2 separate regions of the Homo sapiens genome follow, and region 2 is linked to region 1. Evidence: fine-mapped expression QTL. A gene starts in region 1. The other region holds a variant in brackets. All regions are shown on one strand. Distances are from middle to middle. Region 1 holds the start of PEX13 (peroxisomal biogenesis factor 13). Region 2 overlaps PEX13 (peroxisomal biogenesis factor 13).

Region 1 (16,799 bases):
AGACATGTTTTATTATGCCATTGTTGAAAAAGTATATTTTTCAAATTCATTCAGATGACAATTTACTGACTGTAAAGGGAAAAAATCTTTCACTCAAACAAATTTAAATCCATTTTATTGAGAAATTAGCTCTCCTGCTTTAACAGAGAAATATACATACATACATACATATACAGGTACATTTTGACTCACACAAATATGTTTGTTGTTACCTAAGATCTATAATATAGATATAACATAGTGCATATACAGATGTGCATGTACATACATAGTTACATGAATAGAACAGATCAAAATTTATGAACATTTCCAAAAAGCTGTCCAAATATTCTTGTATATTGCCTTACATAAAATGAAACAAACGAAAGTTGATAACACTCAGTCTCTTAATATAATATAAATTTAAAACCTAATAACATATAATAGATAATAGGTTACAGTGTGTCTGAAAAAAATGTGTAAGCAGGGTTACACAAAACCAGTCTTATTACTTTACAGTCATATTGTGTATAAATGAATATACACATATTTAAATCATCATAGCACAAGTACCATTTCTGGTTTTTTGTTTTTGTTTTTTTAATTTTCAGACGGAGTCTCACACTGTTGCCCAGGCTAGAGTGCAGTGGCATGATCTCGGCTCACTGCAACCTCCGCACCCCCCACCCCTGGGTTCAAGCAATTCTCCTGCCTCAGCCTCCCAAGTAGCTGGGATCACAGGCACCTGCCATGGCGCCCAGCTAATATTTGTATTTTTAGTAGAGACAGGGTTTCATCATCTTGGCCAGGCTGGTCTTGAACCCCTGACCTCGTGATCCACCCGCCTCGGCCTCCCAAAGTGCTAGGATTACAGGCGTGAGCCACCGCACCCAGCCAATTTCTGGTTTTCAAAGTGTTTCCACGTACTTTATTAGGTATTGTCCCTTAAAGTCCTGTGAGGTGGGTATTATCATCATTCCCATTTACAGAGGAGTAAACTGAAGCTGGAAAGTGGTGGAACTGGGATTCAAATCCATGTCTTCTAGTTCCAAATCCTAGGTTTTGAATTCAGTCAGACTGTTCAAATCCTAGCTTGCTCACTTAATAGCTGTGTAACTTTGGGCAGGTTGCTTAACCTCTCTGTATCTCAGTTTCTTCATCTGAAAATAGAGACAATCATAGTATGTACTTACCTAATCAGTTATTATGAGAATTATATAAGACCTTGACATATAGTAATGATAATTGAATATTGTGTATTATTATTGCCAAAATAATAGAAACAACTAATAACATTTTAAAAATAACTGATACTACTAACTCCTGGACAATTTTTTAAATTATAAGAAACTGTGTGTGTATATGTTGTATACATACTGTTTATAATGTATATATTTACATATGTATTACTATCTGCTTCTAAAAAGAATATCACTTTTAGAATCAAACATTTCATAAAGATGTTACATATCTTATGCAAAAAAGTGTTATATTAAACCTCAAAGCTCTCTGTATATTACCATAAATGTCAAAGATCTCTGTATATTACTTTTGTCATTAATAACAGTAATAATGATGATAAGCATTTATTTCTAGAGGATTCCAAATACCTATTTATAAACACAACTGGTAATACAGAAAATGGGAAAAACAGAAAAAGGCAACCATACCCACAATGCTTCCACATAGTAGGACATGTAAGGAATATTAGCCCCTCCTGGGAGGAAGCAATATTTTGTGATATTCTGTTTAGATATCCTTTAGGAAACATCTATACAAGTGTTCAAATGCACCAGGGAGTTCCTCCACAAAGATCCCATTACACTAAATGTTAGAAAGCTAGATATAATCACTTAAGAAGGAACTTACATTTCTGAGACTATTCCAAAATTATGAATATCACTCATTTTATTATAGTTTTTTAATTTAAAAAAGAGTTATGAATAGATACCTGCCCTCAAAAGTACAAGCATTCATTGTAAAATACAGAGAACCTTCTCTTAATTTGAAAAAAAAAAAAAAAGAAAAGAAAATACCTTGTATGGAAGTTTGTAAGGTGCATGAAAATCCACACCACAGAATCTGAAGATACATCTTGGACAAGTACCAGTATTGAGCAACAACTGGGCCACATGCTTGTTTTCCTCAGTCAGTGGGAACATATTGAATAATTATAACTAGAAAGAAAAGAAGTAAAACTAATGAGCAGCTTCTGCGTTTTACTGTCACAGACAAGTCATCATGTTTAGGGATAAAAACTAGCTTTCATTTGAAAAACACTATTGTGTACTCTCTAACCAAGCCCCTTTCATTACACACATATTATAAAATACAAATTTTAAGGAAGTTCATAAGATGGATCCGGTAAAGGTTTCTAATTGCTAAGGAATTTAGTGTAGCATTTTGGATTATGATAAAATACATCAATATAACTAAGTTGATCAAAAGAAATAAAAATAATCAAGAATGGTTGCTTCTGAGGAGGGTAATGAAAACAGAGGTACAGGGTGAAATTTTGCTTTTTGTTTTGTACCATTCAGTATTGTACAAAGTTAATTCATTAAACTTTTCCTGTAAGAAATTAAAAATGAGTTTGCTGGTAGTGGGGCTCAGAAAGCCATACCCCAAAATGAAGGCCTCAGCAGCAGCCTCAGAAGCAAAAGTTTTTCTCTGACCTTCTGCCCTCCTGTCTGTCTCATTCTTCCCCAGACTAGCCATAGAAAAACTACAGTCTCTCTTCCTCAAAGTGAGTCATAGAAACCAGAACCCCCTTTCCCCAAAGCCAGCCATAAAATCTAAAAATATTACTCAAATTTGGTCAGGCACAGTGACTCATGCCTGTAATCCCAGCATTTTGGGAGGCCGAGGGTGGATCACCTGGGGTCAGGAGTTTGAGACCAGCCTAGCTAACATGGTGAAACCTTGTCTCTACTAAAAATACAAAAAAAAAAAAAAATTTGCCGGGCATGGTGGCAAGCAACTGTAATCCCGGCTACTTGGGAGGCTGAGGCAGGAGAATCACTTGAACCTGGGAGGTGGAGGTTGCAGTGAGCCGAGATTGCGCCATTGCACTCCAGCCTGGGCAACAAGGGAGAAACTCCGTCTCAAAAAAAAAAAAAAAAAAAAAAAAAAAAAAAAAATATATATATATATATATATACACACACACACATATGCCTATTACTCAAATTTTCCCTCCACCTTTCTGAGTAAAAACTGACCATGAAAAACTAGGCAAGGTGCAGTGGCTCACATCTATAGTCTCACCACTTTGTGGTTGTGGGGCCGAAGTAGGAGGTTCACTTGAGGCCAGGAGTTTGAGATCAGCCTGGGCAACAACCCACAAGACCCTGTCTCTACAAAAAAATTGAAAAATTAGCTGGGCATGGTGGTACACACCTGTATTCCCAGCTACTCAGAAGACCGAGGTGGGAGGATCGCTTGAACCCAAGAGGTAGAGGTTGTAGTGAATCAAGATCATGCCACTGTACTCCAACCTGGGTGACAGAGCAAGACCTTGTCTCTAAAAAGAAACAGAAAAAAAAAAAAAAAAGATGAAGAAATGATCTAACCTCTCTTGTCTGACTGTAGGTCATAAGACTCCCCATTCCATGGCAGGTCCTGCCCCACACCCAGAAGGAAGGAATGCATGCTCTGAGAGGCCAAGAACCTAGACAGGCTTGCTGGGTTTCCCCACTGAGTTGATTACCTTTTTGTTCAATCATATTTCTATGTGCCATCCATACTTTGATGAACCTAAGCATAAAAATGGACAATTTCCCCTGTTATCATTATGTCTTCATTCTGAAGGCTCCTGTGTATACACATTACATAAACGTGTATGCCTTTTCTCCCATTAATCAATTTGCCTCATGTCAGTGATTTTCAGAGAACCTCTAGGTGGCTAAGGGCCTTGGCATTCAGACTAGACAAAAAAATCTGATCAGTCTACCTTATATAATACTGGACTACCCTTAATGATAGCTTAGCGGCCAACTATTTAAAACAAATTGAGGCCGGGTGCAGTGGCTCACATCTGTAATCCCAGCACTTTGGGAGGCTGAGGTGGGCAGATCACTTGAGGTCAGGAGTTCAAGACCAGCCTGACCAACATGGTGAAACCTTGTCTCTACTAAAAATACAAAAATTAGTTGGGTGTGGTGGCTGGCGCCTGCACTCCAGCCTGGGCAACAGAGTGAGATGCTGTCTCAAAAATACAAACAAACAACAACAACAACAACAACAACAAAGTTGATCAGCAGGTCTAAAGACATCAACTTTACTTTGATTATATGACTAAATGGCAACCACCTGTTAACAAAATAAAAATCTGCCCCTTTCATGAGTAAAACCTCCAACAAAAGGTCAGGCGCAGTGGCTCACACCTGTAATCCCAGCACTTTGGGAAGCCGAGGCGGGCGGATCACCTGACAACAGGAGTTTGAGACCAGCCTGGCCAACACGGTAAAACCCTATCTCTACTAAAAATACAAAAAACTATTAGCCAGGTGTGTTGGCGTGTGCCTATAATCCCAGCCACTCAGGAGGCTGAGACAAGAGAATCACTTGAACCCCAGGAGGCGGAGGGTGCAGTGAGCCGAGATCATGCCACTTCACTCCAGCCTGGGCAATAAGAGCGAAATTCCATCTCAAACAAACAAGCAAACAAACAAACAAAAAAACCTTCAACAAAAACAAATTAAGTACAAAATATTTGAGAGCAACTGTTTGCTTAAATTGCCAATTTTTGCAATTTAAATAAACTCACAAAAAAATACTATATAGAGAATGAAGGCAAATCTGTCTCCTGTTACCGGGAAGGAGGGGGTACTAAAAATTCAAACAACCTAATTTGTTCAGCAAAACAAGATCTTCTAATTAGTGAAACAGTTCATATTACCTTAAAATGATCAACTGCCCATATTTTAGAAAATAATCATTGCATGGCAATCTTATGGCATGCTGTAACTGTGGTCATAAAGATGAACGACAGTGGCATCTTTTAATTTGTGCAGTTTCATAATTCAAATGAACTTGCTTAAAATTTGTGGAAGGGTGAAGCTCCTCCCAACAGCTTAGTATAAAGACGTGATTCTTCTAGTCTGCGTTTTCCAAACCTCTAAAACTTCCTACTTACTTGCAAGTTGCTAAATGTTTGGGGCCACTTACCAAGATTCTTGCACAAAATAATGAGGAAGACAGGCATATAGTTACATAGAACTCTTCACCATAAAAATCAGTTCAGCAGCCAGGACTACTAAAAACAGATTGCCTCTGGCTGAATTCTAATTCAGGGGAATATGTGAGTCAGCAGAGGGAAGAAAATCAGGCTTGTATGGACACACCATACAAGCTGACAAGGTGACAACTTTGAAACACCAGAATTGAGAAACGCATAGTTAGGGTTGCCTAAGTAAATTTGGGCTCCAGGGTATTTTCAAGAAAGAAAACAGAATATGTGGAAAACAGCCTCTAAATAATGAAGATCTGGCCAGGCCCAGTGGCTCACGCCTGTAATCCCAGCACTTTGGGAGGCCGAGGCAGGCATTATCACTTGAGGTCTGGAGTTCAAGACCAGCCTGGCCAACATGGTAAAACTCCATCTCTACTAAAATACAAAAATTAGCCACGTGTGGAGGTGTGCACCTGTAATCCCTGCTACTCGGGAGGTTGAGGCAGGAGAATCACTTGAACCCAGTAGGTGGAGGTTGCAGTAAGCCCAGGACTTTGGGAGGCTGAGGCAGGAGGATCATGAGGTCAGGAGATCGAGACCATCCTGGCTAACACGATGAAATCCCATCTCTACTAAAAATACAAAAAATTAGCCATGCGTGGTGGCACGCACCTGTAGTCCCAGCTACTCAGGAGGCTGAGGCAGGAGAATCGCCCGAACCCAGGAGGCAGAGGTTGCAGAGAGCCAAAATCGTGCCACTGTACTCCAGTCTGGGCAACAGAGCGAGACTCCATCTCAATAAATAAATAAATAAGATCTGTGTGGTCAAGGTCAAGTCATTACTATTTACTAGTGATCTGGATCCCTTTTCCCAGCCCATTTAATCTACTTTGATGCAGAGAAGAGATCGGATGCTGTGAGGGGCGAATATAAGCATTTACAGTGCATCTCTGACTACATACACAGAGAAACTGTTTCTGTTTCACCTGTTACTCTAAGTTATTTTTTCTCCATTAGTTAAGGTCAAGAATTTTACTTAATTCAGAAGTAACATTTAACTCAAAAAGAGACAGAAGAAATACACCCTCTTCCAATAAATCAATAAGCACTTTAAAAGGACACTTAATGAAGATTTCCCTCGATACTTAAATAGCTATATTAAAATTTATTTTATTTTCCATGGCTAGAAGACAATGTTTATTTTTCCAGTAAGTTCACAAGAACAAAGGTATCATGCAAAGTAAATAAATGACACATTACAATCTCCTGGCTCTGAGAAGTTCCCAAACCTGATTGATGAGAATTACAAAACTTCCAGTCCTGAGTAATTTGAAGAGGTCTAAAAATAGACCCCAAAAAAGACCTCTTTTGAATGTGTGTTAATAAACGAGCTATGAATTTACAAACCTCTCAACATCATTTTCACCTACCAACAATTTATCAACTTCTCAAGAATGTTAACATTAAAAGGAGAAAATACGTTACGTCTTAAATTTGGTTTTTTCATCGTGAGATAATTAAATGCCAGGATTTCATAAGATATTAGAAATCGGTTGTCCATATTAGATTTATTATGTTTGAAAGCAAGCCCTGAGAAAGGCATTCCACAATGTAAGTTTTCCAGTGTTGGTTACCCTCAAGATGTTTGCTTTTCGTTTATGTGTTTGTTTTATAGAAATAACTCTGTAACAAGTTGCTACAAAGCCGCCTTTCATGTGTCAGGCTCCCTAGGAGGACTGAATCCCTCCTCCCCAAATCAAGGATAACTAGCCCAGTCTCTGGCTTACTGGAGGAGAGGAAGGACTTTATTTTCACCTCTTGGACGATTACAAAAACCAGTCATCGAAAACGAGAAAAGGGGCAGGGTATAAGAAAAACTAGCGAAATGACCAGACTGAGTCTCATATCCTAAGATCTTTTAAAACTCATTTCCCTACCGAAGGGTGTCATTCGTAACGCGGCGTGGGGCTGGGGGTGTGGATTTACGGAGAAAGAGGTGATCACACTTCACTGGGCTTCTGAAACATTCAGCTCTGGAATCTACTGTGGACTCTTGAAAAGTTCATCCCGAGATCTAACCTCAAGCCTCAGTTTTCGCCAAGCAAGCCCTTCCCCCTTCGGTCAGGTGCAACAAACTTCCCACTCACCCCTCCTTTGCTAACAAAGCCGCTCCAGCAGGAGAGAAACGAACTCTCTCCCGCCACACCTCTTTTGCACCCAGTCTGCACTCCTTCACCTCTTACCTACCCGCCTCACCTTCTCCCCAGACGCCGGAGCCTGAGATTTAACCCCTTCCGGCCCTCGAAGGGAAGAGGGAAGACTAAAGACAACGCACCTATTGCGTCTAGCAATTCTGTTCCCCGAGGAAACGTGCGTTTTAGAACAAAAGTACCAGCCCGCTCTCGCTAGGACTAAGTGAGCTTCTCCCTTCTTGTTTGTAGAGGAAATCCGAAAAACTGCCTGGTTTGCCACCTCACCCTACCTCCCCCACGAGCGAAGGAGTGCGTGCGGCTTTACTCCCAGCCCGACTGGTCCACTCCCAGAAAAGCCTCGGTGGGACTCCGACGTCTAGGGAGTTGTAGCCGCTACCAGAAATATCGATGAGCCTTTACCCTGAGGTTTAGAAAGGCAGCTCTTTCTGGGGCAAATACAAAGAGCGTGTTTCTTCCTACAAATTAGTGGCATCCTCCCGCTGTATGGATTCAGCTGGCAAAGTAACTCAAGCCTTGTCCTGACTGCAAGGGTGGGCGGGGTGGACGGCTCGGTGTTCTGCCCGTTGTGTCTTACGCTCCAGGTGCTGGTCTACGCGGGCCTGGACAGTCAGGGGTAGGAGCGGGAGCCGAGAGGAGGCGGAGGAGATGGCGTCCCAGCCGCCACCTCCCCCCAAACCCTGGGAGACCCGCCGAATTCCGGGAGCCGGACCGGGACCAGGACCGGGCCCCACTTTCCAGTGAGTGTGGGATTCTTCAGGCTGTGAGTTTAGTGGGCCCGAGCGGGGACTTGGCAGGAGGCGGTTGTAGCGGTTGTTAGTGGAGGTATTCCCTTCCCCCCTTTAACCAATACCCAACCTTGGGGATAGGGGCCGAGGTGGAGCTGGGGCGCTTACCAGTGGGGACTTTAGTGTCTCACAGCTGTTTCTGACCCGGCAGCTCTAATCAGCAACGTTTTTTTCGGGAGCTCCTGGGCGTCTCTCTGGGTCTCTGTGCTTGAAAGAAAGGGGGGCGGCTTCCTACCTACCGCTTCTGTTTTCACTTTGACAGAATGGCTTCTCTATCTTTAAAGCGTAGACTTTGGTCTGTAGCAGTTGAGAGCGGCATTTGTCCAGCCACGGCATCGACAGGGAGCAAAGTCTCTCCTTAAAGGTGTTAACCTCTCGAGAAGTTGCTGAAAGCCGGAAAGGTTTTACGCAACAGGAACTCAAGCCCCGTACACTTTGCATTCTTTTCCAGCATAACTCAGCCAGTGTTTCGGATCGAGATTGGAGAAGCAACTTTAAAGCAGGAGTTCTAGATCTGAGGCCTATGGATGGACTTTGTGTGCAAAATAGTGTATTTTTCTGAGGCCTGTATTTTTTTTTTGTTTGGTTTTTAATCAGTATCAGTTGGTTTCTAGGACTTTAAAAAGGCTAAAACATGCAGAGTTGGGAGTGTTTCGTGGCCTCGTGTGGCTTTTGTTTGGTAGTGCTGGACATCTTAATTCAGATAGGTGTGATTCAAATGTCAAATCACCTACTATTGTAGGTTTTCCTAAGCGTAAAAACCCCAACATATTGGAATGTATTTCTGCTGTATTCTGAAATCTTTTATTTAAACACTAAAATGCTTTAACACAGTAACGACTTAGTTTAATAAGGATATATACATAACAAGTAATAAGTTTGATTAGGCTGGTAAGCCACGGTGACATTATCTGCTACCTTTTTTTTGAGTGGGTTCTTTTTTCCCCATTTAGGCTGCTTGTCGAATGAGAGAGGTTTTATTTTTTGCATCTGTTAAAGTTCTTTTTATGTAAAATTAACCATTTTCCCACTTTATCGTGAAATATTTTAAACACAGAGACCAGTAGAGAGTAAGATAATACCTATATATTCACTACTCAACTTTAAACAGTGTTAACATTTGCCAGACTTATGTCGAATTTTTCAAAATAAAAGACGGCTAAACTCTCCCATTCTTCTTTATAGTGGTGACTATTGTCCTTATTTGGTGTTTCGCATACCCAGTAATGTTTTTATATTTTAGTACTTAGGTTTGTGCTATTTATATGCATTTTATATCTAAAACTTAACAATGTAACAATAATATATATTTTATATCTAATTACATGTTACTATTTATATATTATTTTTTGTATCTGTTTTTGTTTTTTCTGTTGCCCAATTTTCTATTGGCTTTATCTTTGCTTACCAATTTGTAAGAGTATTGTTAAACTAATCCTTTTTTGTTACTACATTTTGCTAATATTTTTCACTGTGTGGCTTCTCCTCTTTATATTTATGTTCAATTTTTTGTACAGATGTTTTTGATTTTAATACAGCCAAAATTGTCATATTTTATTGTTTATGCTTTTTGTCTTGGTTAAGAAATCCTGTCTACCTAGATCAGGACAGTTTTTCTGTATGTTTTCTTTTAAATCTTCCGGTTTTTTCATTTGCATTTAATCCACATGGAACTGACTTTGTATAAAAATCTAATTTTTTTTTCCATATAGGTAACTAATTGTCGCAGCACCATTTATTGAGTAGTCTATTCTTAGTTTTTAATGCCATCTATGTCATATCAAGGTTTCCTAAATATGTAGTTCTGTTTTGGGCATTTTCTGACTTTCTACTAGCACCACACTATCTTAATTACAGAATTTTATAAGTCTTGATATGTAGTATGTCAAGAGTTTCCACACATTGCTGTTCTTTGTAATTGCGCTCTTTACACTTAGTCCTTTATAAAAAGACTTACTGGGATTTTTATTGGAACTGAGCTGAATTTATGGATCAAGTAAGTTTTTATTCCATGAATATTGTATAAGCTACAATTGGTGGGAATTTATCTTTTTGCCTTAAATATCTTATAATTATCCACTTTGGGAGACTGGGCGGGCAGATCACGAGGTCAGGAGATCGAGACCATCCTGGCTAACTCGGAGAAACCCCGTCTCTACTAAAAATACAAAAAAACATTAGCTGGGTGCGGTGGCGGGCACCTGTAGTCCCAGCTAATCAGGAGGCTGAGGCAGGAGAATGGCGTGAACCCACGAGGCGGAGCTTGCAGTGAGCCAAGATCACGCCACTGCACTGCAGCCTGGGCAACAGAGGGAGACTCCATCTCAAACAACAACAACAACAAAAAACTTATAATTACCTCCATGAAATTTTTTTCCATATTTTATTTTTTATTCCTAGATTATTTTTGCTGTAGTAGTTGCAAATGGGCTTTCTTTTTTCCTTTTACATTTTCCAGTTGGTTATTAACTGGTATGGCAGAATGCTATTGATTTTTTTTAATGTAAATATTATGTACAGCATAATCTCAAACTCTTAATTAGTTCTGATGGTTTGGTTGAAATTCTCTTTAGTTTTGTGTAGCCAGTTCTGTCATTTACAGATAAGCTAGCATCCTTGTATTGGTCCTGACTTCCACTGGAGTGCTTCTGAAGTTTTACTGTTAAATGTGAAGTTTGCTTTTTGTTTTTGATAGATATCTTGTCAAAATTCTCTCTCTCTACCTTGCTCAGATTTATTTTATTTTATTTTTATTTCATTTTTATTTTTGTTTGAGATGGAGTCTCACTGTGTCTCCCAGGCTGGAGTGCAGAGACGCAATCTTGGCTCATGGCAACCTCTACCTCCTGGGTTCAAGTGATTCTCCTGCCTCAGTCTCCCGGACAGTTGAGACTACAGGCGCGTGCCACTCCGCCCAGCTAATTTTTGTATTTTTAATAGAGATGGGGTTTCACTATGTTGGCCAGGCTGGTCTTGAACTCCTGACCTCAGGTGATCTGCCCACCTAGGCCTCCCAAAGTGCTGAGATTACAGGTGTGAGTCACTATGCCCAGCCCTTACCTTGCTCAGATTTTTATTGTGAAGAAATATTAAATTTTATGAATGGCTTTTCTGCATCTGTTGAGACCATTGTATGTATTTTCGCTTTAGTATGAAAATGTGGGAATAGGAACAGCTCTGGTCTGCAGCTCCCAGCGTGATTGACGCACAGGACGGGTGATTTCTGTGTTTCCAACTGAGGTACCTGGTTCATCTCACTGGGACTGGTTGAACACTGGTCGCACCCCATGGAGGGTGAGCCAAATCGAGGCGGGGCATCACCTCACCCAGGAAGCGCAAGGGATTGGGGGATTTCCCTTTCCTAACCAAGGGATGCCGTGACAGACTATACCTGGAAAAATGGGACACTTCTGCCCAAATAGTGGGCTTTTTCCACAGTCTTAGCAACAAGCAGACCAGGAGATTCTCTCCCATGCCTGGCTTGACGGATCCTATACCCATGGAGCCTTGCTCAGTGCTAGCACAGCAGTCTGAGATCAATCTGCGAGGCAGCAGCCTGGCAGGGGGAGGGGAATCCACCATTGCTGAGGCTTGAGTAGGTAAACAGAGCGCCCAGGAAGCTTGAACTGGGAGGAGCCCACTGCAGCTCAGCAAGGCCTACTGCCTCCATAGACTTCAGCTCTGTGGGCAGGGCATAGCTGAGCAAAAGGCAGCAGAAACTTCTGTGGACTTAAACGTCCCTGTCTGATAGCTCTGAAGAGAGCAGTGGTTCTCCCAGCATGGTGTTTGAGCTCTGAGAACGGACAGACGGCCTCCTCAAGTGGGTCCCTGACCCCCGTGTAGCCTGACTGGGAAACACCTCCCAGTAGGGGCTGACAGACACCTCAAACAGGCAGGTGTCCCTCTGGGACAAAGCTTCCAGAGGAAGGATCAGGCAGCAATATTTGCTGTTCTGTAGCCTCTGCTGGTGATACCCAGGCAAACAGGGTCTGCAGTGGACCTCCAGCAAACTCCAACAGACCTGCAGCTGAGGGACGTGACCATTAGAAGGAAAACTAGTAGACAGAAAGGAATAGCTTCAACATCAACAAAAAGGACATCCACACCAAAACCCCATTTGTAGGTTACCAACATCAAAGACCAAAGGTAGATAAAACCACAAAGATGGGGAGAAACCAGAGCAGAAAAGCTGAAAATTCTAAAAATCAGAGCACCTCATCTCCTCCAAAGGATCGCAGCTCCTTGCCAGCAACGGAACAAAGCTGGACAGAGAATGACTTTGACGAGTTGACAGAAGTAGGCTTCAGAAGGTCGGCAATAACAAACTTCTCCGAGCTAAAGGAGCATGTTCTAACCCGTCGCAAAGAAGCTAAAAACCTTGAAAAAAGGTTAGATGAATGGCTTACTAGAATAAACAGTGTAGAGAAGACCTTAAATGACCTGATGGAGCTGAAAACCATGGCACAAGAACTTCGTGATGCACGCACAAGCTTCAATAGCTGATTCAATCAAGTGGAAAAAAGGATATCAGTAATTGAAGATCAAATTGATGAAATAAAGTGAGAAGACAAGATTAGAGAAAATGTTTATTGTATCAACCTTCTATTGTTGAACCATCCTTGCATTTCTCAATGAACTTTGATTAGTCTTGATTTTTTTCTGATATGCAATTCCAAATTCTATTCTAAACCAGTTGGAGTGGTTCACATTTGTAATCCTAGCATTTTGGAAGGCCAGGGCAGGAGGATTGCTTGAGGCCAGAAGTTCAAGACTAGTCTGAGCAACATAACAAGACTCTGTCTATAAAAAATTTTAAAATTGGCCAGGTGTAGTGGTGTGTGCCTGTAGTCCTAGCCACTAGGGAGGCTGAGGTGGGAGGATCCCTTTGAGTCCAGGAGTTCAAGGCTGCAGTGAGCTGTCATCATACCACTGCACTCCAGCCTGGGTGACATAGCAAGACCCTGTCTCCAAAAAGAAAAAGAACTCTATTCTAATATTGTGAGACTGTTGCATACATGTTCCTAGGTGAAATTGAATTTTTTTTCTTTGTACTATTCTGGTTTTGTATCAAAGTTTTATAGCTAGATAGGTTTTTCTGTTGAGTCTAATTTCCTTTTTTTTTTCAGACAGTGTCTCACTCTGCCACCCGGGCTGGAGTGCAGTGGTGCAGTCATGGCTCACTGCAGCTTCTACATCCTGGGATTAAGTGGTCCTCCTGCCTCAGCCTCCTGAGTAGCTGGGACTACAGGTGCATGCCACCATGCCCAACTAATTTTTATATTTTTAGTAGAGATGGAGTTTTGCCTTGTTTCCCAGGCTGGTCTCGAACTCCTGGGCTCAAGCAATCCTCTCACCTCAGCCTCCCAAAATGCTGGGATTACAGGCATGAGCCATCTCACCTGGCCTAATTCATTTCTTTATAGGCAGACTGCCTTCTCCTTAGTAGCCTTGATACGTTTGGTCCTCTAGCTTTATTATATTGTAACCAGGTAGGAATATACAGACACACACACACACACACACACACACATATTTTTTTTTTCTTCCTGCTTAGTATCCACAGTATTCAGTCTGAGGATTCATTTCTTTTTTTAATTCAGGAAAATGCTCATCAATTATACCTTTAAATATTATTTTAAGTTTTGTTTGAACACTAGTCTTTACTGTCTCTTCTTCTGTCAAGCATTATATCGGGACTAGTGTCTGCTATAAGTAACATTATCTGACTCACTGTGATTTGGACTATTAAGACATTTATTGTTTAGTTAGCAAGAAGTCTAGAGATCTGCCTTCTCAACATTGTCATCAAGGGACCTAAGTTTTTCCTGACTTCTTTTTTTTTTTTTTTTGTCAGCTCTCTTGACTTTTTGGCCATCTCTGTCTTTTGTTTTGTTTGTTTGTTTGTTTGTTTGTTTTGAAATAAGTTTCACTCTGTCACCAGGCTGGAGTGTGGTGACGCAATCACACCTCACTGCAGCTTCCATCTCCCAGGGCTCAAGCAGTCCTCCCACCTCAGCCTCCCGAGTGGCTGGGACCACAGGTAAGTGCCACAACGCCCAGCTAATTTTTGTATTTTTTGTAGAGATGGGTTTTTACCATGTTGCCAAGGCCGATCTTAAATTCCTGGGCTCAAGTGATCTTCCCACCTAGGTCTCCCAAAGTGCTGGGATTACAGGCATGAGCCACCACTCCCTCACCATCTCTGTCTTATTCTTTGCTCCTTTAAAAAGAATCTTACCCCACCCCTGATCTGGTTGCTTTCAATATTTTTTCTCTGTTTTAGTTTTCAGCAGTTTGCTTTGTTAGGCCTCAGTGTGGTCTTCTTTGTATTATCCTGGGTGGAATTCACAGGGATACTTGAATCTGACTTTGATGCCTCTTATTAATTCCAGAAAACTTTAAGCCATTATTTCTTTAAATATGGTTTCTATCTATTGTCACTTTACTCCTTTAACTCAACTTGCATATATACCCCATATGTCACTATACTCCCTGTATCTTACTCTCTTTTCTGTATTTATCCTTCTGTTTCTTATGCTTCATTCTGGGTATTTTCTTCCCATCTCTTTCCTAGTTCACTGATATTTTTCTTTCACTGTGTCTAATCTGGTATTAAACCAGTCATTGAGGCCGGGTGCAGTGGCTCATGCCTGTAATCCCAGCACTTTGGGAGGCCGAGGCGCGTGGATCACGAGGTCAGGAGATCGAGACCATCCTGGCTAACATGGTGAAGCCCCGTCTCTACTGAAAATACAAAAAATTAGCTGGGCGTGGTGGTGGGCGCCTGTAGTCCCAGCTACTCAGGAGGCTGAGGCCGGAGAATGGTATGAACCCAGGAGGCTGAGCTTGCAGTGAGCCGAGATCACGCCACTGCAGTCCAGCCTGGGCAACAGAGTGAGACTCCATCTAAGAACAAAAACAAAAACAAAAAAAACAGTCATTGAGTTCATAATTTCAGGTTTGGTTTGGTGTTGTTTTTAGTTGTAGAATCTTCATTTGGTCCTGCTTTATATTATAGTTCCTATTTTCTTTTGGAAAATCCCAATCTTGCCTTTTTTATTTGAATATATTCAACACAGTTGTTTAAAGTTTCTGCCTAATAAGTCTATAATAACTCTATTATCTAGATCCCCTTTGGAGCTCTTTGTATTATCTGAAGTTTCTTTTTTTGTTTGTTTGTTTTGTTTTTGAGACAGTCTCACTCTGTTGCCCAGGCTGGAGTGCAGTGGCGTGATCTCGGCTCATTGCAACCTCTGCCACCCAGGTTCAAGCAATTCTCCTGCCTGAGCCTCCCCCGTAGCTGGGATTACAGGCACCTGCCACTGCACCCAGCTAATTTTTTATAGTTTTTAATAGAGACGGGGTTTCACCATCTTGGCCAGGCTGGTCTTGAACTCCTGACCTCATGATCCACCCATAATTTTGTTATGTAAGCCCTATCATTATTATTATTATTATCATTATTATTATTATTATTAAGACAGAGTCTTGCTCTGTTGCCCAGGCTGGAGTGCAGTGGTACAATCTCGGCTCACTACAACCCCTGTCACCCAGGTTCGAGTGATTCTTGTGCTTCAGCCACCTGAGTAGCTGGGATTACAGGCATTCGCCACCACACCTGGCTAATTTTTGTATTTTTAGTAGAGACAGGGTTTCGCCATGCTGGACAGGCTGGTCTCAAACTCTTGGATTCAAGTGACCCACCTGCCTCAGCCTCCCAAAGTGCTGGGATTATAGGAGTGAGCCACCATGCCCAGCCAAGCCCGTTTATTTTTTAATGAGAGCTGCACATTGTATATAGACAGTTTAATGTGATTTGAGGCCTAAGGATATCTTTCTCTAAAGACTTTTCCTTTTGACCAGAATGTTAGGCCACTAACAATCTAGAATCACTTTAATCCAATAAAGGATTGAGCTGATTTAAAACTTGGTTTTCATTCCTGCCAGGTAGTCCATTTCCTGTTAACCTTTTCACCCTTTCTACTAGCATATTTCCCTTTTTAAGGTCCCAATCTGAAGTGTGAGGGTTCCCTATGGCTTTCCTCTTTAGGGTTCTGAACTCCAGTTTATGGCTCCTTAGCCCAGGGAGTCTTAAAATCTCTGCCCAGCTTCTCATCCTGTCAACCATCTCTTCTGGAATTGGCCCTGGTTTCTAGAGAAACGCCTGAAAAGATCTGGCTCTCTGGGTTTTTTTTTTCCTCCTTGATTTTGTCTCCAGAATTCTTCGGTGCCTCGTTCTCTAATGCTTTAAACAGAATTCCTTCCTATTTCCTTCCCTTCTAGTTCATTGGGAGGGTTAATCTAATTACCTCGACAACCATTACTTAAAATAGAATTCCCAAGTTCTGTATTTCCATTCTGCTCCTTAGTGTACAGCAGCTAATTTTCTTCTTGACCGGTAGTTGAAAAACGGTTCCAGTGGCTGTGGCCACCTTTTCTTTTTTCTTTTTTTTTTTTTTTTTTGAGACGGAGTCTCACTCTGTCGCCCAGGCCGGAGTGCAGTGGTGCTATCTCGGCTCACCTCAACCTCTGTCCGCTTCCCAGGTTCAAGCAATTCTCTGCCTCAGCCACCCGAGGAGCTGAGATTACAGGCGCCCACCACCACGCGTGGCTAATTTTTGTATTTTTAGTAGAGACAGTATTTCACCA
Region 2 (16,799 bases), 29 kb after region 1:
TAAAAGGTATTTATGACAAATCCACACCTAATATCATACTGAATGGGCAAAAACTGGAAGCATTCCCTTTGAAAACCAGCACAAGACAAGGATGCCCTCTGTCACCACTCCTATTCAACATGGTGTTAGAAGTTCTGGCTAGGGCAGTCAGGCAAGAGAAAGAAATAAAGGGTATTCAATTAGGAAAAGAGGAACTCAAATTGTCTCCGTTTGCAGATGACATGGTTGTATATTTAGAAAACCCCATTGTGTCAGCCCAAAATCTCCTTAAGCTGATAAGCAACCTCAGCAAAGTATCAGGATACAAAATCAGTGTGCAAAAATCACAAGCATTCCTATACACCAGTAATAGCCAAATCATGAGTGAACTCCCATTCACAATTACTACAAAGAGAATAAAATACCTAGGAATCCAACTTACAAGGGATGTGAAGGACCTCTTCAAGGAGAACTACAAACCACTGCTCAATGAAATAAAAAATGACACAAACAAATGGAAGAACATTCCATGCCCATGGATAGGAAGAATCAATATCATGAAAATGGCAGTACTGCCCAAGGTAATTTATAGATGCAATGCTATCCCCATCAAGCTACCACTGACTTTCTTCACAGAATTGGAAAAAACTACTTTAAAGTTCATATGGAACCAAAAAAGAGCCAACATAACCAAGACAATCCTAAGCAAAAAGAACAAAGCTGGAGGCATCACACTACCTGACTTCAAACTATACTACAAGGCTACAGTAACCAAAACAGCATGGTGCTTGTACCAACACAAATATATAGACCAATGGAACAGAACAGAGGCCTCAGAAATAATACCACATCTACAACCATCTGATCTTTGACAAACCTGACAAAAACAAGAAATAGGGAAAGGATTCCCTATTTAATAAATGGTGCTGGAAAAACTGGCTAGCCATATGTAGAAAGCTGAAACTGGATTCCTTCCTTACACCGTATACAAAAATTAACTCAAGATGGATTAAAAACTTAAATGTAAGACTTAACACCATAAAAACCCAAGAAGAAAGCCTAAGCAACACCTTCAGGACATAGGCATGGGCAAAGACTTCATGACTAAAACACCAAAAACAATGACAACAAAAGCCGGAATAGACAGATGGGATCTAATTAAACTAAAGAGCTTCTGCACAGCAAAAGAACCTATCATCAGAGTGAACAGGCAACCTACAGAATGGGAGAAAATGTTTGCAATCTACCCATCTGACAAAGGGCTAATGTCTAGAATCTACAAAGAACTTAAACAAATTTACAAGAAAAAAAACAACCCCATCAAAAAGTAGGCAAAAGATATGAACAGATACTTCTCAAAAGAAGACATTTATGCAGCCAACAAACATATGAAAAAATGCTCATCATCACTGGTCATCAGAGAAATGCAAATCAAAACCACAATGAGATACCATCTCATGCCAGTTAGAATGATCATTAAAAAGTCAGGAAACAACAGATGCTGGAGAGGATGTGGAGAAATAGGAATGCTTTTACACTGTTGGTGGGAGTGTAAATTAGTTCAACCATTGTGGAAGACAGTGTGGCGATTCCTCAAGGATCTAGAACTAGAAATACCGTTTGACCCAGTGATCCCTTACTGGGTATATATCCAAAGGATTATAAATCGTGCTACTATAAAGACACATGCACACGTATGTTTATTGTGGCACTGTTCACAATAGCAAAGACTTGGAACCAACCCACATGTCCATCAATGATAGACTGGATTAAGAAAATGTGGCACATATACACCATGAAATACTATGCAGCCATAAAAAAAGATGAGTTCATGTCCTTTGCAGGGACGTGGATGAAGCTGGAAACCATCATTCCCAGCAAACTATCATAAGGACAGAAAACCAAACACCGCATGTTCTCACTCATAGGTGGGAGTTGAACAATGAGAACACATGGATACAGGGCAGGGAGCATCACACACTGGGGCCTGTCAGGGGGTGGAGGGGCTTGGAGATGGGTAGCATTAGGAGAAATACCTAATGTAAACGACGAGTTGATGGGTGCAGCAAACCAACATGACACATATATACCTCTGTAACAAACCGGCACACTGTGCACACGTACCCTAGAACTTAAAGTATTAAATGTAAATATATATATAGGTATATACATATATATATATACCTATATATTAAAGTATAGTATATATAAGTATATATGTATATATATAATATATGTGTATATATATAAAAAAGTATATATATGTGTATATATATAAAAAAGGTATATATATATACACCTTTTTACTAAGAATGGTTTTTAGGTAGAGCTAGGGCAGAAGAGACCAATCAGGAGAGTCAAGCAGCCATTACCTTAATTCAAGTGAGAAGTGATGGTGGCTTGGCTCAGCATGGCAGTGACATGGGTCCTAAGATAGAGTCAGATTGGGATTACTCACCCCTGTAATCCCAACACTGGGAGGATGAGGCCTGCAGATCGCTTAAGCCTGGCAAATCGCTTGAGCCCAGAAGTTTAAGGCCAGCCTGTGCGGCATAGGGAAAACCTGTCTCTACAACAGTTACAAAAAGTATCCGGGTGTGGTGGTGCATGCCTATAGTCCCAGTTACTTGGGAGGCTGAGATGGGAGGGTGGTTTGAGCCTTGGAGGTTGAGCCTGAAGTGAGCTGAGATTGTACCACTGTACTCCAGTTTGGGTGACACAGCAAGACCCCGTCTCAAAATAAATAAATGGAAGAACTAATATAAGTGAATGATACTACTATCATACATAGAAAGATAGAAAAGAAGACAGACTAAGATGGAAATCAGGAAGAACAGAAGTAGAACCATATTATTGCTACATTATGGAGGAAGAGTGGAAGGATGATGAATGATGTAAGGTTCTACAATAAGATCAAGAACTGAGAAAAGATTATTAGATCTGGCAACTGGAAGTCATCAAGCTCCAGCAAGTAGTTTTGGTAAAGTGGAGAAGACAGAAACTGTAGCAGAGGATAAAGGGTAAATAAAGTCAGAAGATGTGGAAAAAGAAAAGATTAGCAGTGAATGGAAGGAGGGAGGAAAAGAATGGCCAAATTGAGTGATCAAGTTGTTGTGGGAGATTGTCAGTTTTTTGTTTTGCTTTGTCTTTTCAGAAGTGAGGAGATCTGAGAATGTTTTTAGGCTAAAAGAAAGGAGTCAGTAGAGAAGGAGCAGTTATAAATAAGGGAAAGATAGGAGTTAAATGATGAAGAAGCTACTATAGGAAGTAAGAGAGGGTGTGATCTTACGGAACCTGGCAGGTAAAAAGGAAGGACGGTTTTTTATCTGAGTCAAAAGGAGAGGAAATCGGTAATGATACAAAGAGATTTTTGAGGAGAAGCAAAATTGAGGTCCTATTACTTTAGCTCTTAGAGCAGGGGTTGGCAAACCGTGGCTTGTGGGCCAAATCTGGCCTGCTCCTATTTTTGTACAGCTCACAAGCTAAAAATGGTTTTTATACTTTTCAGTTGCTGGGAAATTAAAAGAATGTTTTAAAAATTGAAATAATCTGTGATGTGAAAATTATATAGAATTCAAATTTCATTAATAAAGTTGTATTGGAGCACAGCCACACTTATTTCCATACATATTGTTATGGCTGCTTTTCCACTGTAACAGTGGAATTGAATAGTTTGCACAGAGACTATATGTGAAATTCCGATGGCTTCACTTTTGCTCTGCCCACTACAAATTTCAGTAACTTAGTTATAACTTGATAGCATGATGAGTAATATATACATTGTTATACTACAGTGGGTTTTTTTTGAAATTATGAATTCATATATGACACACAAGAAAAAAGTGTACTTTGAGTGTCATATTTTCAAGGCACAGTATAGTATGAATTATTTCGTTATTGAATTAGATAGTAAAAAAAACTGTATTTATTATACAATGACACTATAGCTATGTTAAATGGCTATACTACATATCAGCATTACCAGATTGAGCACTCATCACAGAAAATCAACAGTCAAAAAAATTAGAAAATTTAAAATGGAATTCTCATCACAGCAGAATTTCCGCATCAAAATAAAAATAAAATAAAATGAGGCTGCAACCAAAATAAGTTCCTGAGAGGTTCATATGTTACCCAAGCAAGGAAACCTGTTTACTCATGGTCATTGCAACAGCCAAAAAAAATATGTCCAGAGAAAGTAAACTTGTTTAAGATTATTAGCTTCTCAGTGAGAACAGTTCCTTGAAGAGTTGATGGCATTTTGAACAACATGGCCAACTTAAAATAAGACAAATGATTTGAATGTTTTTCCTTGGCTCATCATGACCCAATGGATATTAATACTTGCTAAATCTGTTGGCTAAATGTTGTCATCATGGGAGTGAGTTCATTATCTCGAGAGTGAGTTTGTTATACAAGCTAGTTTGGCCCTCTTACTCTCTCGCATGCACTCTTTTGCCATGTGATGCCTCCTGCCATGTTATGACACAACAAGAAGGCCCTTACTAAATGCCCCTTGATCTCGGATTTCCTAGCCCCCAGAACTGTGAGCAAATAAACTTCCATTGTTTACAAATTACCCAGTCTGTAGTATTCTGTTAAAGTAGCATAAAACAAAGACAGGCTGGGTTCGGTGGCTCATGCCTGTAATCCTGGCACTTTGGTAGGCCGAGGCGGGCGGATCATGAGGTCAGGAGATGGAGACCATCCTGGCTAACGTGGTGAAACCCTGTCTCTACTAAAAAAAAAAAAAAAAAAAACAAATTTTCAAAAAAAAGACAGTACTGCTTAGTTGTTTATTTGAGAAATCAATGGTGAATTGGAAATGACTGAAGAATTAGCCTCTATGAATAGTCATGGTTCAACTACAGACAAGAACATTTTCAAAGAAGGTGAAAACACTGATTCCGTACAACCTGAATCTGCTAAGATGTGTTGCACCTGATAATGGTGAAAATTCTAGGTGGAGCAGGAAAAGGCCTAGTTGGACAAAAGTTACAAAGGTTTTGAAAATACAGTTTTTTTGTTTATGGTTATTCATTGTATTATCAGCAGCCACATTGCAGAAAATATTTGAATTTATCATGTGTTATTGAACTAGTAGTGTCAAGGTAAAGTTTATTCACTCTTGTGACATAATCATTGTCAGTTTTGTGAATTTTTGTCAGATACAGAAGCTGAAGATCCCGACTTGCCCTACCGCATGGCAATTCAATGGCAGAACAAGGTTTAAGTTTTATTTTATTTTTTTTGAGATTGAGGCCAAGAATGAAATTTTTCTGAACAGAACTCCTTTTCAGCTATTGTTATTAAACCCATTCAGCTTTGGAAATCACCTTTTACTGCAGACTTAGTTAAATTCTGAGTTCTTTTTGGAGACAGGGTCTTGCTTTGTCAGCCAGGCTGGAGTGCAGTAGCGTGATCATAGCTCACTGCAACCTCACACTCTTGGGCTCACATGATTCTCCCACCTCAGCTTCCCAAGTAGCTAGTACTAGAAGTACACACCACCACACCTGGCCAATTTATTTATTTATTGTGGAGACGAGATTCCACTGTGTTGCTCAGGCTGGTCTTGAACTCCTGGCCTCAAGCAATCCTGCCTTAGCGTCCCAAAGTGCTGAGTGAGATTACAGGCATGAACCACCATGTCCAGCCCAGACTTAGTTATATTCTTTGTTGTTGTTTTCTTTTTGAGACAGGGCCTCACTCAGTTGCCCAGGCTGGAGTGCGTAGTGCAGTCTCGGCTCACTGCAACCTCTGCCTCCCAGGTTCAAGCGATTCAAGCTGAGACTATAGGCGCGTGCCACCACATCTGCCTAATTTTGTTTATTTTTTTGTAGAAACAAGGTTTCCCTATGTTGCCCAGGTTGGTCTTGAACTGCTGGACTCATGCAATTTCCCCTGTCTCAGCCTCTCAAAGTACTGGGATTATAGGCATGCGCCACCATGCCCGGCTAATTTTGTATTTTTAGTAGTAATGGAGTTTCTCCATGTTGGTCAGGCTGGTCTCAAACTCCCGACCTCAGGAGATCCACCCGCCTCGGCCTCCCAAAGTGCTGAGATTACAGGTGTGAACCACCACGCCTGACCTATATTCTTAAGTAATTCAAACGGAAACCACAAAGCAGAACAGTGCTTATATGCAAAACTTATGCTGGAGTAAAGTTTTGACAACACCTAATACAGTTTGACTCACAAGTAATGTCACACTGCTTTATAGACCTCTCAGACTGTCAGAAGTTAACACAAGCAGTATCTCCATTCCCACGCAAGTTGGCAGCAGATACATTTTCCAAGCTTAAGCTATTAATACAATGCCAGAGCATTTTTTGGACCTCCATGCAAGCACAAAGGAAATTTCCATATTTCAAAATCCATTTAACTATGCAATTGAGGAACTTCCACTTAATCTTCATTTGGAAGTGATTAATCTGCAATGTAATAACATGGTAAAAGGCAAATATCAAGAGAAGAATTTAACAGAATTATATTCTGGCCTATTACTCTCCCAACTAATAAATATGCTCAATTAAAACCACATACTCATAGACTCATATTAGGATTTGACATTACCTATCTGTGTGAAAAGGCATTTTCAAAAATGCAGTACCTCAAATTTTATTACAAATTAGAATTAGCAAGTGAATATTTATAATTGATTTCCAATTAAGTGAAATATCCTTCCCCCAAAATATTTCATTCTTCTAAGTAACTTCCAAATAGACCTGTATTACCAAAAAGAAACATGGTTATTATATTTTTAATCTTGTCAATAAATTTATGGAAATTTTGTTTCCTCTTTTTATAAAAGTAATTGCCCAATATCCTGTTTTGCCTCTTGGCTTTCAAAGTCTAAAATATTAACTATCTGACCCTTTTCAGAAAAAATTTGCCAACCCCTGGCTCACGGTAAGAGAGCGGGAAGTTGGAGCTTAAAGAAAGGAAAAAGTTCATAATAGGTATCTTTAGTGGATCTATTGTTGATTTAACATAGTATTCATTATAGTTTTTACTTGGGAGGGGAGGACTTTTCTCTTGGCAAATTTATGCAGTTTGCAAGCCATAGCCAGTGAAATATCTGCATTTTTCTTTTGTAAATTTTATTAACCTAATTTTAATTTGGCTTATAGACAGCATCAACTGGGCAAGTGGTGAGGATGACCATGTAGTTGCCAGAGCAGAATATGATTTTGCTGCCGTATCTGAAGAAGAAATTTCTTTCCGGGCTGGTGATATGCTGAACTTAGCTCTCAAAGGTAATAAATTATGAATAAGTTGGAATTATCTGTAAATTTTGATATTCATAAATGCAGTATTAAAAACTACAACAAAGGATCTTGTTCATTGTTAGTTAACTTAGAGATAGTTACTAGAACTTCTTTTTCATGTCAATTTAGAGCTTCCAAATCTGGAGGAGTCAGGAAGAAATGCCCCAGCAGAGTTATTCGAATACTATTTCACTGAGATAAGGAAAGGCTTTGTTTATATAGGCTTTTCTAAACTCAAAATACTTGAATTTCAAACTGTTAATCCCCACACAAAAACGTGATGTCAGTAACTAAACATAACAAATCTAATAAAGCAAAGGAATTATGTAACATCATCTAAGCATTGCTGTTAGTCCTTGTGGACTGGTGTTGCTTCTTTATTACTTCAGCAGTGTTTACCTCAGAAATTTCATCATAAGTATTTTAGGAAATAGTGTCATGAAGTATTATAGAACCCCAGCAAGAGATTTATACGCATCTCGGGTTTATTTTTGGACCAAGTCACTGATACTTTTTAATGACTCTAGGCAAAATGACCTTTTCCTTCACCCTTCCTGAGTAATGATTATCAGGATTTTTATGGATTTTTTTAAATATGTGTATTTATGGGGATTCAAGTTTATTGCAAAAAGTGATGTTTTGTTGATAAAGGTACTAATAACAATAACATGTTATTTATTGAGTACTTACTATGTACAAGGTACTGTATTTTACATATTTCATTTAAGCCTTACAATAATACGGTGAAGTGGTACTATTATTATCCTGTCATTGTTTTACCCTTGAAGAAACTGAGACTCAGAATAAGTAAATTGTCCAGTATCACAAAGCAAAGGTGCAATAGAACTGGACTATGAATCTAGGTTTGTCTAACTTGAGACCTTGTGCTTTTAACAACTCTGGCTGTTTTTTCATGGAAGGATCTATTTATGGAAACTTCACCCTTTTTTTGGTTTTAGTCATTTTTTGCAGGGAAGAAATACTTTCAATGTTCAAATCATTACTATGTAAATAATTGAAAATTTTGGATGAGATTACTAAATCTTTGCCTCATCCCTTTTACAAAAAACCTAGACTTAAGCGAGGTGCAGTGTGTGCACCTATAGTCCCACCTACTCAAGGGGCTGAGGCAGAAGGATCACTTGAGGCCAGGAGTTTGAGGCTGTAGTACATTGTAATCACACCTGTGGAACAGCACCACTGCACTCCAGCCTGGGCAACGTAGTGTAACCTTGTCTCAAGAAAAAAAAAACAAACCTCTAGACTTTTAGGTATTCTATTTGTATTTTTCTTTCTTTTTTTTTTGTTTTGAGACAGAGTCTAGCTCTGTTGCTCAGGCTCGAGTGCAGTGGCACGATCTTGGCTCACTGCAACCTCCGCCTCCCGGGTTCAAGTGATTCTCCTGCCTCAGCCTCCTGAGTTGCTGGGACTACAGGCACATGCCACCACGACCAGCTAGTTTTTGTATTTTTAGTAGAGACAGGCGTTCACCATGTTGGTCAGGCTGGTCTCGAACTCCTGACCTTGTGATCCGCCCGACTTGGCCTCCCAAGGTGCTGGAATTACAGATGTGTACCACCACGCTGGGCCTATTCATATTTTTCTTATAGGGAAAATAGCAATTTACTATTTTGGATTTCAAACGAATGATTTTTTAAAGATTTGTTGTTAGAGACAGGAACAACACAGATAATTTTAATTAGAGGTCATGTGGTTTCTTTCAGTTACATAACACTTCAGAAAAATTTTATATTTCATTATTCTTCAATGAATAGTGCCTCTTAACACTAGCTTGCTTCTTGGCTTTCCTCCATTGCTCAAGAAAAGTATGTTTGGGCCTTTGGAACAAAATCGGTCGTAGACATGGTAAATTTGTTTTTTCCTGTTATTATAGAGCATTAAACATTAAAAAGTCTTATATTGTGCCTAAATTATAATGTTGAACTAAAATTGTAACAGTTAAGCAGCTTTTTAAAGATATAGATAAAATAGGAAAATACAATAGAAAATTGAGTACATTAAATAATCTTTCTTTAAGCTTAGAGTATTGCCTTTATTTATCATATGGCTAGAAATAACAAAGGTCTTCAATTTTTTGCCCATCTTGGATTGAAATTAATATTTACTGTCTTCAGGATTGTTTATTACAATCACATGAAACGAATTTTATATTTTTGCCAAAAGTAGGCTAAGAAAGCTGAGTGCATTAAAGGTATATCTTTTCTATACTTATTCCTAACTTACCCAGTTGAGAAGGAATAAGATATTCATTTTTTAGACTCCAGTTTAAAATATGAAAGACATTGATGTTAGTTTTCAGTTTTGAGAGAACTAAATCTCCCTACTCTATGAATGGACCAACTGATAATAAACTTTATGTTCTTCAAGGTGGAAGGAAATATTTAGTAAGTATAAAATAAAAATAGAAGAATGGACCCTAGAACTGTTAAGCCTACTCAGCATTTGATTTTGAATATATATGCATGTACTATTTGTTATCTACTATGTAAGCATAACAGATTTTCCTGAATGTGATATTTTACCATTACTATTCTGTTGGACCTCCAAAGTATATTGTAATTACAAGACTGTCTTTTTTTTCCATCAGAACAACAACCCAAAGTGCGTGGTTGGCTTCTGGCTAGCCTTGATGGCCAAACAACAGGACTTATACCTGCGAATTATGTCAAAATTCTTGGCAAAAGAAAAGGTAGGAAAACGGTGGAATCAAGTAAAGTTTCCAAGCAGCAACAATCTTTTACCAACCCAACA[C/G]TAACTAAAGGAGCCACGGTTGCTGATTCTTTGGATGAACAGGAAGCTGCCTTTGAATCTGTTTTTGTTGAAACTAATAAGGTTCCAGTTGCACCTGATTCCATTGGGAAAGATGGAGAAAAGCAAGATCTTTGATATCTTTCATGTTTGCCTGCAGTTGAACAATACTTTAGAGTACTTTTTAAAATTATTTCTCACAAAGAAATGAATGTACAATCCAATGAAAACATTTGTTATTGGCTATTTCAGGTGTTTTGCTGCTAGAAATTATTAAAGTTACACACTAGTATGTTGGTCTGGTGACCTGGTTACATTTTATTATACACATTATTGGACCATAAGGACATTTGTTTCACCTAGATTTTAAGATTATGGAGACTGCTGTCATTTTTATCTTATTTAAATCTCTAGGTTTATTGGAAGAGTAAGATTGATGAACTATAGCATGCACAGTTTGGTACAGTAGAGATCATTAATACTTTTAAAAGTTCTGCATTAATTGACTTGGAATCCTTAGAAATGGAGTGGTGACATGTCAGTATGAGAACAGGCAAAAGGTAAATTTTTTTTTTTTTTTACAACCTTAAGTAATCTCAATAATAAAATTTTCTGATCTGTATTATATCCAGTGTTGGGTTTATATTTTCACCCACAAACAACTGACACTGCTATCTTTTACTGTATTTTTAAAAATTTAATTTGAAAAGGTCACCCAGAAGCATTCTGAAGGAAATGGTTCTAGAATTATAGAGTATGTAGCCCTAATAGTTTTCCCTCCTAGCAAAAAGTCTGAAATTTATCTTTCTTACAAACTGTTCCATTTCTTCTAAGGATCCCTTAATTATTTATCTCTTTAAGCCAGGCATGGTGGCTCACGCCTGTAATCCCAGCACTTTGGGAGGCTGAGGCGGGCAGATCACCTGAGGTTGGGAGTTCAAGACCACCCTGACCAACATGGAGAAACCCCATCTTTACGAAAAATACAAAATTAGCTAGGTGTGGTGGCACATGCCTGTAATCCCAGCTACTCGGGAGGCTGAGGCAGGAGAATTGCTTGAACCCCAGGAGGCGGAGGTTACGCTGAGCCGGAGATCTCGCCATTGCACTTCAGCCTGGGCAACAAAAGCGAAACTCCATCTCAAAAAATAAAATTATTTATTTCTTTAAAATATGACTAGTTTTCATACTGGGTGAATCAGAAGTATATGAAAGGTATACTTTCTTTTCCTACAACAAATACTTGAGTTCTTTTGAGTTTGCACTTAATGATATAATCAGTTATAATAGTAATTTTTAATATTTTCATAGATTGTTTGCTTCTACCTTGTGTAATTTTTTAAATTCCATATTTAGGATGCTCTGTAAATATTGAAAATGTGTCACATTGGATACATTTTTCTTTTAGGTTTAGTTTTTACTACTGAGACTTATTTATAGTCTTAGTGCTCTATTGCCATTTAGAATATGATAATCCTCATGCCTTTAATCTCAGCACTTTGGGAGGCCAAGGCGGGCGGATCACCTGCGGTCAGGAGTTTGAGACCAGCCTGGCCAACACGGTGAAACCCTGTCTCTACTAAAAATACGAAAATTAGCTGGGTGCAGTGGCGTGCACCTGTAGTCCCAGCTACTCAGGAGGCTGAGGCAGGAGAATCACTTGAACCCGGGAGGCAGAGGTTGCAGGGAGCTGAGATCATGCCACTGCACTCCAGCCTAGGGGACAGAGCAAGACTCTGTCTCAAAACAAACAAACAAAAAATAATAATACGATAATGCTATTTGACGTGTTTTTTGGTTTATAATGATTTTAAATGCAGTTAACTTTCAGTACACTGAATATTTCCCCAGAAAATTGGAAACTTCATATACTTGGCTACGAACATACTACAGAGTAATACTATCAGGAATACAGGTGTATAAGAATACATTTATAGATATTGTTGAAAACTTTGAACTGTTTGATAAAAATTGTGATTTAGTATTTTTTCTTTTGTCTTTTTTTGAAACGGAGTCTCACTCTGTCGCCCAGGCTGGAGTCCAGTGGCGCGATCTCGGCTCACTGCAAGCTCCGCCTCCCGGGTTCACGCCATTCTCCTGCCTCAGCCTCCCGAGTAGCTGGGACTACAGGCGCCTGCCACCAGGCCCGGCTAATTTTTTTTGTATTTTTAGTAGAGACGGGGTTTCACCGTGTTACCCAGGATGGTCTCCATCTCCTGACCTCGTGATGAGCCCGCTTCGGTCTCCCAAAGTGTTGGGATTACAGGCGTGAGCCACCGCACCCAGCGATTTAGTATTTTTTTCTAATAGACTATGTTCAACAAATAAGTAATTCTCGAATAGTTCAGATTAAAACATACAGGAACCAAGTACATACCCAGCATAGAAGAACTTTACTAAAGGCTTCTTGGAAAGCCCTTTTTTGAAACGACAGTATCGTAAGTAACATATCATTTATAATAGAAATCTTGACCCAGTGCAGAAAAATAAATATAGTAAAATTTATTTATCTTTGGCCAGTTTTCCAACACCCAGGTATTAGCCTTGAAGTTGAAGAGATAAGGTTTCTTGTATATTATTTTTCATTTGTGTTCTACAATTAAAGGTTCTGCTTTGATTTGTCAGATAATTTATAGAAATTTTGTTCTCAAAACAAATGTTTGATAAAACAGATTATTAAATTTGGGGTTGAGATGTCTAAATTGAATGCTAGAAGTAAAGTAGAAGTGACCACTATTAAAGATGTATAGGGAGAAGAGTACAGCACAAAGTGATAAAATAGTGACACTTTTGTAGGGGTGTTTATTGTTTGGTTAAGTCTGCTAAATTACGGTATGCATTATCTGGTGACTATTTGTGCCTGAAAATTCGTTTTGTATTAAAATTCTGGAGAAGGAATTCAGGACTAGAATAAAGAGAAATTTTGTAACCTTTTTTATCATGACAGTTTTAGAATAATTTTTTTAGCTGAGATTAAATGTTCAAGGCTCCAATATTATTTTTAGGAACTTATTTAAGGAGTGCTACTTTACAGAAATTACTAACACACCAAAACATTATTAATTAAATAAAATATAAGTTTACAATAATAAAACATGTTTCTTTTAATTTTTCTGATTATATTTTATGAGTTCAGAAAGGAAATGGTAAAAGAACTATACATTTTCATGTTTTAACATTTTATGTACGTACTTGATTCTGTCTGTGTCATAATTACACATTTACTTGAACACAGCTATCCTTTATCTTGTGCTTTCTTTAATAGAAAAATGAACAGAAACTGAATGCAGTTAAATTTTTATTTTTAGTAGGTTGTGAAGTTACTTTTACTGGAGAAATAAAAATATGTTAAACTTGATTGACTTTTTAAGATAAATTGTTAACACTTTTGCAGGATTAGAATTAATATGAAGTATCTCTTTAACATTATTGTATATATTACCTACTGCAAACCTATCTGTTCTGTTTCTTTGTGATTTAAAGAAAAATAGGCCAGGCATTGTGGCTCACACCTATAATCCCAGCACTTTGGGAGGCCAAGGCGGGCGGATCACAAGGTCAGGAGTTCGAGACCAGCCTGACCAATATGATGAAACCCCGTCTCTACTAAAAATACAAAAATTAGCCAGGTGTGGCGGTGGGTGCCTGTAGTCCCAGCTACTTGGGAGGCTGAGGCAGGAGAATTGCTTGAACCTGGGAGGCAGAGATTGCAGTGAGCCGAGATCGCGCCACTGCACTCCAGTCTGTGCGACAGAGCGAGACTCCATCTAAAAAGAAAAAAACAAAAAAAAAAGAAAAATAATACATTTATATAGAATTACCTACAGGTGTGTTAAATAAAAACACTTCATACCTAGATTTTGGGGGATCTAGATTCTAGTTTAGACATCACTGCTTACTGTAAGATTTAAGTCCCATTATTTATTTTTCAGTTTCCTAAATTATAACAATAGGCATAGCTGCTACACCTGCCTCACATGAAAGTGCTTTTTTTTAATGTTAATTTTAATTTTATTTTTGAGACAGGGTTTTGCTCTTGTCACCCAGGCTGGAGTGCAATGGCGAGATCTTGGCTCACTGCAACCCCCAACTCCTGGTTTCAAGCGATTCTCCTGCTTCAGCTTACCTAGTAGCTGGGATTACAGACACCCGCTACCATGCCCAGCTAATTTTTGTATTTTTAGTAGAGTCGGGGTTTCACCACATTGGCCAGGCTGGTCTTGAACTTCTGACCTCAGGTGATCCACCCGCCTCAGCCTCCCCAAGTGCTGGGATTACCGTCATGAACCACCACGCCAGGCCTGAAAATGCTTTTTAAAAAATACAGGGGCCGGGTGCGATGGCTCACGCCTGTAATCCTAGCACTTTGGGAGGCCGAGGCAGGCGGATCACCTGAGATCAGGAGTTCAAGACCAGCCTGGGCAACACGGTGTGATCCCGTCTCTACTAAAAATACAAAAAATTAGCAAGGCATGGTGGCACACACCTCTAGTCCCAGCTACTCGGGAGGCTGAGGCAGGAGAATTGCTTGAACCCGGGAGCCGAGATTGCACCACTGCACTCCAGTGTGGGCAACACAGCGAGACTCTATCTCCAAAAAAAAAAAAATTTATATATATGTATATATATATAGAGAGAGAGAGGTGGGTGTGGTGGCTCACCCTGTAACCCCAGCACTTTGGGAGGCTGAGGTGGGTGGATCACCTGAGGTCAGAAGTTCAAGACCAGCCTGACCAACATGGTGAAACCCCATCTCTCCTAAAAATACAAAAATTAGCCGGGCATAGTGGCGAGCACCTGTAATCCCAGCTACTCTGGAGGCTGAGGCAGGAGGATCACTTAAACCTGGGAGGCAGAGGTTGCAGTGAGCCAAGATCATGCCATTGCACTCCAGCCTGGGTGATGAGTGAAACTCCATCTCAAAAAATAGAATTATACTTGTGTTCTGTTTTACCTTAAGAGTTTTTATTCATCTCCCTCCTGCAATTTCATACTCTACGCTCCCTATTTAATATTTGTCCTTCCAAGCCATCTCTCATGTTTTGGATATAGTTTCTTGAAAACCATATAATATTTATATGTTTAAATTTTTTACATAAATGATATTGTGGCATAAATTTTATTCTCCTAACTTTCATGAAGTATTAGGTTTTTAAGACCTACCCACGTTACTTATATAATGTGCTTTTTTTTTTTTTTTTTTGAGACAGCGTCTCGCTCTGTCACCCAGGCTGGAGTGCAGTGATGCAATTTCAGCTCATTGCAAGCTCCGCCTCCCGGGTTCACACCATTCTCCTGCCTCAGCCTCCCGAGTAGCTGGGACTACAGGCGCCCACCACCACGCCCGGCTAATTTTTTGTATTTTTAGTAGAGATGGGGTTTCACCGTCTTAGCCAGGATGGCCTCAATCTCCTGACCTCGTGATCCACCTGCCTCGGCCTCCCAAAGTGCTGCAATTACAAGCGTGAGCCACCACGCCTGGCCTATAATGTGCTTTTGACCGGTGCATATTATTCTATTGTATTCATATGCCAAAGCTTATCTTTTCCTCTAGTCACAAATACTTATATTTTTCCTAGCTATTTCCACTTCTGCAAGCTTATACATGTCTTCCTATGAAGGAAGAATGCCCTTTCAGGAAACCTGCCCTTTCATTTCTTTGCTATATATGTCCTAGAGTAGAAAGGCTGGAGTTTGAGGTATATGCATATTTAATTTAAGTCATGCTGGATCGTTCTCAGGAATGGTTGTCACAGTTTTCCTTTCCACAAGCAAGACCTGAGGGTTTCATTTTCTCTTCATTTTCAGTAGCACTTGATATTTTCTGATTTTTGCTAATCTGATGTGTATAAAATTGTATTTTTTCTTAATCTGCATTATCTGATTACTGATGAAGGTGAGTATTTGCTTTTTAGTCATTCCGATTTTCCATTCTGTGGATGGTCTGTACTTATAATTTGTCTCTTTTCTATTAAGTTTTTCTTTCTTGCTGATTACAGTATAGTATATACAGTGTGTGCATGTGTGTGTATATATATGTGTGTGTATATATATGTGTATATATATGTGTGTGTGTATATATATGTGTATATATGTGTGTGTGTGTGTGTATATATATATATATATTTTTTTTTTTTTTTTTTTGACACAAGGTCTGGCTCTGTCGCCCAGACTGGAGTGCAGTGGTGTGATCTCACCTCACTGCAACCTCTACCTCCTGAGCTCAAACCATCCTCCCACCTCAGCCTCCCAAGTTGCTGGGACTAAAGGCGCGTACCACCACGCTTGGCTAATTTTTGTGTTTTTTTGTAGAGATGGGGTTTCTCCATGTTGCCTAAGCTGGTCTCGAACTCGTGAGCTCAGGAGATCTGCCTGCCTCTCTGCCCCCAAAGTGGTGGGATTACAGGTGTGAGCCACTGCTCCCAGCCAAGAAATTCTTTATATGTAGATACTATTTTCTTGTCAAGTTCAGATGTTGGAAATAACTTGCCATTTGTTCATTCTTGTCTTTGTTGTTTTTCATATAATAGAAATCCCCCCAATGTTTTATATCTTTTATGTCTTTATTTTGTTTTGTTTTGTTTTTGAGATGGAGTTTCCCTCTTGTTGCCCAGGCTGGAGTGCAGTGGCACAGTCTTGGCTCACTGTAACCTCCGCCTCCCGGGTTCAAGCGATTCTCCTGCCTCAGCCTCCTGAGTACCTGGAACTACAGGCATATGCCACCACACCTAGCTAATTTTTTTTGTATTTTTAGTAGAGACAGGATTTCGCCATGTTGGC

Evidence for each region. PIP is the estimated chance that this variant, and not a neighbour inherited with it, causes the effect.
Region 2: its variant is fine-mapped to the expression of PEX13 in whole blood (TOPMed, PIP above 0.99).

What each region holds. Positions count from the first base shown.
Region 1 is chr2:61,009,750-61,026,548 of GRCh38, forward strand. It overlaps PEX13 (peroxisomal biogenesis factor 13), which reads left to right and starts at 7,971. Exons shown (of 4, transcript NM_002618.4): 1 at 7,971-8,102. The coding sequence starts at 8,011. PUS10 (pseudouridine synthase 10) reads right to left here and starts at 8,506. Exons shown (of 18, transcript NM_144709.4): 1 at 8,259-8,506; 2 at 2,016-2,156. The coding sequence starts at 2,141. RefSeq lists enhancers at 2,682-2,851, 8,378-8,427.
Region 2 is chr2:61,038,614-61,055,412 of GRCh38, forward strand. It overlaps PEX13 (peroxisomal biogenesis factor 13), which reads left to right. Exons shown (of 4, transcript NM_002618.4): 3 at 7,113-7,238; 4 at 9,859-13,377. The coding sequence ends at 10,157. Among named protein-coding and RNA genes, the nearest start is that of SANBR, 19 kb to the right of the region's middle. The variant C/G (reference allele first, on the strand shown) is at 10,023.